Regions from separate parts of the Homo sapiens genome. Here region 1 is linked to region 2. Evidence: fine-mapped expression QTL. A gene starts in region 2. The other region holds a variant in brackets. All regions are shown on one strand. Distances are between the middles of the regions.

Region 1 (2,904 bases), 84 kb after region 2:
GCTTGGTAATTTTACCTGTGAGCTCATGTTTAGCTGGTTTTAATCTGGGGAAATCCAGAGAGACCTGGGTGTGCTGGGAGCAGCCACCCACCATGCATGTTCTCACTAAGTTTGCAAAGAACACCATTCTTTTAACCTGGGCCACTTCTCAGGGCTGTGCTTACAGCAAGTGGTCTAGAGGAATGAGGTCATGTTTCTTCTAGTCAAAGTGCAGGTTTGTTGACTGTCCACTGAAAAAGCAGTGAGTTCTCCAACCTCAGCATGCATCGGCCATGACATCAGCCCCACTGCTTGCATAGCATCTGCCTGGGCCCCTTGTGTCACCCCCTGGGAAACCTGTGCCAGCAAGAGGCTCATGCTGCTTGCTGTGCTCCAAGGACCCAGGAACCTCATGTCTTCAGTCAACATCTGTGAAACACTGTAGGCTAGCAGATTAGTCTGTAAACAGAGTAGAAGTCAGACCCAGAAAAACGTCAGTGCCTCCAGGCGCCTGCACGCTGCCCTCATGGAGGCAGGAGAGCTCCTCAGTGTGAGCTTTTCCAGATCACGCAGCTGCCACCAACACAAACTTCAAACCCTTGTTTTTGTTTTTGTTTGTTTGTTTGTTTTTTTGTTTTGTTTTTTTTTTTAGTATTTATTGATCATTCTTGGGTGTTTCTCGGAGAGGGGGATTTGGCAGGGTCATAGGACAATAGTGGAGGGAAGGTCAGCAGATAAACAAGTGAACAAGGGTCTCTGGTTTTCCTAGGCAGAGGACCCTGCGGCCTTCCGCAGTGTTTGTGTCCCTGGGTACTTGAGATTAGGGAGTGGTGATGACTCTTAAGGAGCATGCTGCCTTCAAGCATCTGTTTAACAAAGCACATCTTGCACCGCCCTTAATCCATTTAACCCTGAGTGGAAACAGCACATGTTTCAGAGAGCACGGGGTTGGGGGTAAGGTTATAGATTAACACCATCCCAAGGCAGAAGAATTTTTCTTAGTACAGAACAAAATGGAGTCTCCTATGTCTACTTCTTTCTACACAGACACAGCAACAATCTGATTTCTCTATCTTTTCCCCACATTTCCCCCTTTTCCATTCAACAAAACCGCCATCGTCATCATGGCCCGTTCTCAATGAGCTGTTGGGTACACCTCCCAGACGGGGTGGCCGCTGGGCAGAGGGGCTCCTCACTTCCCAGAAGGGGCGGCCGGGCAGAGGCGCCCCCCACCTCCCGGATGGGGCGGCTGGCCGGGCGGGGGCTGCCCCCCACCTCCCGGAC[G/C]GGGCAGCTGCCGGGTGGAGACGCTCCTCACTTCCCAGACGGGGCGGCTGCCGGGCGGAGGGGCTCCTCACTTCTCAGACAGGGCGGCTGGGCAGAGATGCTCCTCACCTCCCAGACGGGGTCGCGGCCGGGCAGAGGCGCTCCTCACATCCCAGACGGAGCGGCGGGGCAGAGGCACTCCCCACATCTCAGACAATGGGCGGCCGGGCAGAGACGCTCCTCACTTCCTAGATGGGATGGCGGCCGGGAAGAGGCGCTCCTCACTTCCCAGACTGGGCGGCCGGGCAGAGGGGCTCCTCACATCCCAGACGATGGGCGGCCAGGCAGAGACGCTCCTCACTTCCCAGATGGGGTGGCCGCTGGGCAGAGGCTGCAATCTCGGCACTTTGGGAGGCCAAGGCAGGCGGCTGGGAGGTGGAGGTTGTAGCGAGCCGAGATCACGCCACTGCACTCCAGCCTGGGCAACATTGAGCACTGAGTGAACGAGACTCCGTCTACAATCCCGGCACCTCGAGAGGCCGAGGCTGGCAGATCACTCGCGGTTAGGAGCTGGAGACCAGCCCGGCCAACACAGCGAAACCCCGTCTCCACCAAAAAAATACGAAAACCAGTCAGGCGTGGCGGCGCGCCCCTGCAATCTCAGGCACTCGGCAGGCTGAGGCAGGAGAATCAGGCAGGGAGGTTGCAGTGAGCCGAGATGGCGGCAGTACAGTCCAGCCTCGGCTTTCACAACTTTGGTGGCATCAGAGGGAGACCAGTGAGAGGGAGAGGGGGAGGAGGAGGCGGAGGGGGAGGGAGAGAGAGGGACTTCAAACCCTTGTAATGGGAAGCTATGCTTACACATCTCAGGGGAGCTTTGGCCACCCCAATGCAAGATCTCAGATAAACTTCCCTCTGGACTCCAGTGGACGGAGACCTCATCATCTTTGAGGGCGCAGTTCCAACTCCACACCTCATGGTCCAAGGCTTCAGCTCTGCGCCACAACTTGCTGTTCACAGGAGGCAGCGGTTCCTGCTATTGGCTGATGCACCCAAGGCCAGCCAGGGGTGTGGGGCTTCTCTCGCAATAAACGTCTTTAGAGGCTACGGTTCTGGTTTCAGCTCCCTCTTCGTTTCTGGCTGTTGGGAGATTTCCCTTGCTTATTTGTGGTTCAACTATGCACCTATCCGAACCATTCCAGCAACATTCAAAGCTATCAAAGATGCAGTCATTCTCATAGAGAAAGCAGAGCTTGCTGTGCAGGTACTCGTGGTCCCGGTGTGGTCCCAGCCTGCTCTCTATGTTGAGGTCCCACACCTTCACCAACAGGGAGTCTCTGGTCATCAGGTACTGCCCACTATGGCTACATTTTACATTGGGTATGGATGAAATTATTTCTGAGAAGAAGGACCTACTGCTGGGATCTTGAGGCTCTTCAAAAAACTTGGAGTGTCTGTTGCACAGGGTCGAGGAGCCCATGCTGCTTAGTCAATGGTTCCTTTGCTACTACTGTAGACAAGCACATTGCACTGGTATGAGTGGAACTTGGCTGCCACAATGACTTCTGTCAGCTGCTCCAGGTTAGCAGGTTTGATGTCTACCACGTCAAAATGTCTATGTGTGATTTCTAAGTGTCATAAATTAATCCTCAGGTCATTGAT
Region 2 (2,904 bases):
GGCTTTCGCTTTCCGAGAAGCGCCGCCCTGCCCTACAATCTGGAGCCCCGAGCAAAAGTGCGGAGGCGGGGGTGCCCACCTCTACCCTTGAGGTCTCGAGGCGGGTGATGTGGGGGGCGTAAGAAGTAGGAATCTGCCTTTTGAGATCTGGAGAGGTCCACGGCACCGCCCTCGAGGGTCTGGTGATGGTGCTAGTAGGTTGGCGGCGGAGTGAGGACGACCCTCCTTCGGGGGTTGTAGGAAACGGGCCTTGCTTTTTGGGATCTGGTGGAGCCACAGTTCTTCCACGGAGGAATCTGAGGGGTTCATACGGTCCTGCCCTCGAGGATGGCGAGGAGGGGACAAGTGGGAAGGCACCAGCTCTGCCCTCCACTGTCTCTGGGGAACACGCAATCCTGCCAGTAGGGGTATGGGAAGACCCCTGCTGTGCTCCCCGAGGTGGGAGTGGGAAACGGACAGCTGCCTTCTGGAGCCTGAGGCATGCCGTGGCCCTGCCCTCGAAATGGTTGGGGACGTCATGACACTAGGTTGGGGAGCACAAGGCACCCTGTCCTTTGGTGTCTGTGGAAAGCCCAGCACTACTCTCCAGGGTCTCAGGTGAAGACATGGCCCTGCTATTGGGAGTCAAGGGGGCACGTGGCCTTGCCCTTTAGGTTTAGGGACACAGTCCTGACCTGGGGAGCCCTGGTTCATTCATTTACTCATTCGACAAGTACTTATTGATCATCTACTAAGTGTCAAGGGTGTCGCAGGCTCCCCGGATACATGGTACCTCTCTGCCTTGGTGGAGACCCCAGCCTAGCACGGGAAATGGGCACTAATAAAATCATTCCAATTGGGTGTAAAACTGGTAAAAGTGTGAAATGTTCATTCTCCAGTTAGAGAGCTTGTCACACCCCGCATGTCTGTAAAATCTGTTCTCCCGGCCAGCCCGGAAGCCCAAATTCCCTGTCTTCTCGAAAGAATGGGAAAGCCCAACCACGTCGGAGCAGGACTCGGGCGTCTCGGAAGTATTTAGGTCCCCCAGCTCGGGTACTGGGACCGGAGGGATAGCAGAGCCTCCTAGGAAGTGGGTAGAGGAATTAGAGCCTCGGCTTCCATCTCCAGCCCCCAAGCAGTAAGCGGTCCTGGCTGCCCAGCCTTCCGTTTGGCTGCGGGCAGGAGACAGGGATTTGGGGGTCAGGTCTCGGGTTTGGCTACAAAAGGTGGAAAGACTTCCGGTCTGCATTTCTGGGCGGGGATTCGTAAAGATACACCTTCTGGTTGGCTGCGGTAGGCCAAGGTAGGCGGGGCATTGAGTGGAAAGCTCGGCTGGGCGGTGCCTGTGGGCCCTCCTATAGAGGGCTTGGTAGGCGGTGGCGGGGAGGGGCGGGTTCCCAGGCCGACTCTCCTTGTGGTTGGCTGAGGCTGGAGGTGGACGGGACTTTTGGAGGGTCGCTCGCGTCTGTTCGCAGAGCTGTGGGCGGAGTTGAGGCCTTGGAGGCTGAGATGTGGTTCTGCGCGTGTGCGGACGGCTGTCTGTTAACTCCGCGGTCAGTTCCCGGACTGGTGGCTGGTCTGCAGGGTTGACCTGCGCAATGCAGAGGCTGCAGGTAGTGCTGGGCCACCTGAGGGGTCCGGCCGATTCCGGCTGGATGCCGCAGGCCGCGCCTTGCCTGAGCGGTGCCCCGCAGGCCTCGGCCGCGGACGTGGTGGTGGTGCACGGGCGGCGCACGGCCATCTGCCGGGCGGGCCGCGGCGGCTTCAAGGTGAGGCCCGAGGGTCTGGGCGCCGAGTGTGGGAAGACGCCGGCGCGGGCTGGGGTCCGGTTCGTATGTTTGGTTATCCTGGACGCCGGAGGCAGCTCCGCACCCAGCTGTGGTCGCTTTGTCTCCCTGGGGTGGGCATGGGGGAGTGGGGGTCACTGCGGCTGCTCTTTCTGCTGCAGGACACCACCCCCGACGAGCTTCTCTCGGCAGTCATGACCGCGGTTCTCAAGGACGTGAATCTGAGGCCGGAACAGCTGGGGGACATCTGTGTCGGTGAGCGAACCACTCAGGCCCTGCGCTGGGCCTTCCCCGTTCTTCCGTTCGTCCAGAGCTCTCCTCACCTCCCCGCCCCGAATTTTCACTGGGGGAACCTCCATGGCCTTGACCTTTGAAGGGGTCCTGCCCCTTCACACCTGTGGGTATTTCTCGTCAGATGGGAGGAGAGACTGAGAAAAGAAATAAGACGCAGAGACAAAGTGTAGAGTGGGCCCAGGTGACCGGCATCGGTCTCCGAGTTCCCTCAGTATTTATTGATTACTATTTTCACTATCTCGGCAAGGGGAGTGCGGCAGTGTGGGGGAAAGGAAGAGAGATCAGACTGTTACTGTGTCTGTGTAGAAAAGGAAGACAGAAGAAACTCCATTTTGATCTGTACTAAGAAAAATTTTTCTGCCTTGAGATGCTGTTAATCTGTAGCCTTAGCCCCAACCCTGTGCTCACAGAAACATGTGCTGTATTGAATCAAGGTTTGAGGGATTTAGGGCTGTGCAGGATGTGGCTTGTTAACCATTTGTTTGCAGGCAGTATGCTTGGTAAAAGTCATCGCCATTCTCCATTCTCGATTAACCAGGTACACAGTGCACTGCGAAAGGCCGCAGGGACCTCTGCCCAAGAAAGCCTGGGTATTGTCCAGGTTTCCCCCCACTGAGATTGTCTGAGATATGGCCTAGTGGGAAGGGAAAGACCTTACAGTCCCCCAGCCCGACACCCGTAAAGGGTCTGTGCTGAGGAGTATTAGTAAAAGAGGAAGGCCTCTTTGCAGACACCCGTAAAGGGTCGGTGCTGAGGAGTATTAGTAAAAGAGGAAGGCCTCTTTGCAGTTGAGATAAGAGGAAAGCATCTGTCTCCTGCTTGTCCCTGGGAATGGAATGTCTTG

The links. PIP is the estimated chance that this variant, and not a neighbour inherited with it, causes the effect. A credible set is the group of variants that fine-mapping cannot tell apart.
Region 1: its variant is the best candidate, but not a certain one, in a credible set for the expression of ACAA1 in whole blood (INTERVAL, PIP 0.56).

The regions. Positions count from the first base shown.
Region 1 is chr3:38,051,923-38,054,826 of GRCh38, reverse strand. All of the region lies in intron 2 of DLEC1 (DLEC1 cilia and flagella associated protein), which reads right to left. It also overlaps the pseudogene PPP2R2DP1. Among named protein-coding and RNA genes, the nearest start is that of DLEC1, 14 kb to the right of the region's middle. RefSeq lists an enhancer at 1,440-2,284. The variant G/C (reference allele first, on the strand shown) is at 1,264.
Region 2 is chr3:38,135,709-38,138,612 of GRCh38, reverse strand. It overlaps ACAA1 (acetyl-CoA acyltransferase 1), which reads left to right and starts at 1,486. Exons shown (of 12, transcript NM_001607.4): 1 at 1,486-1,748; 2 at 1,928-2,021. The coding sequence starts at 1,578. RefSeq lists enhancers at 1-268, 1-371.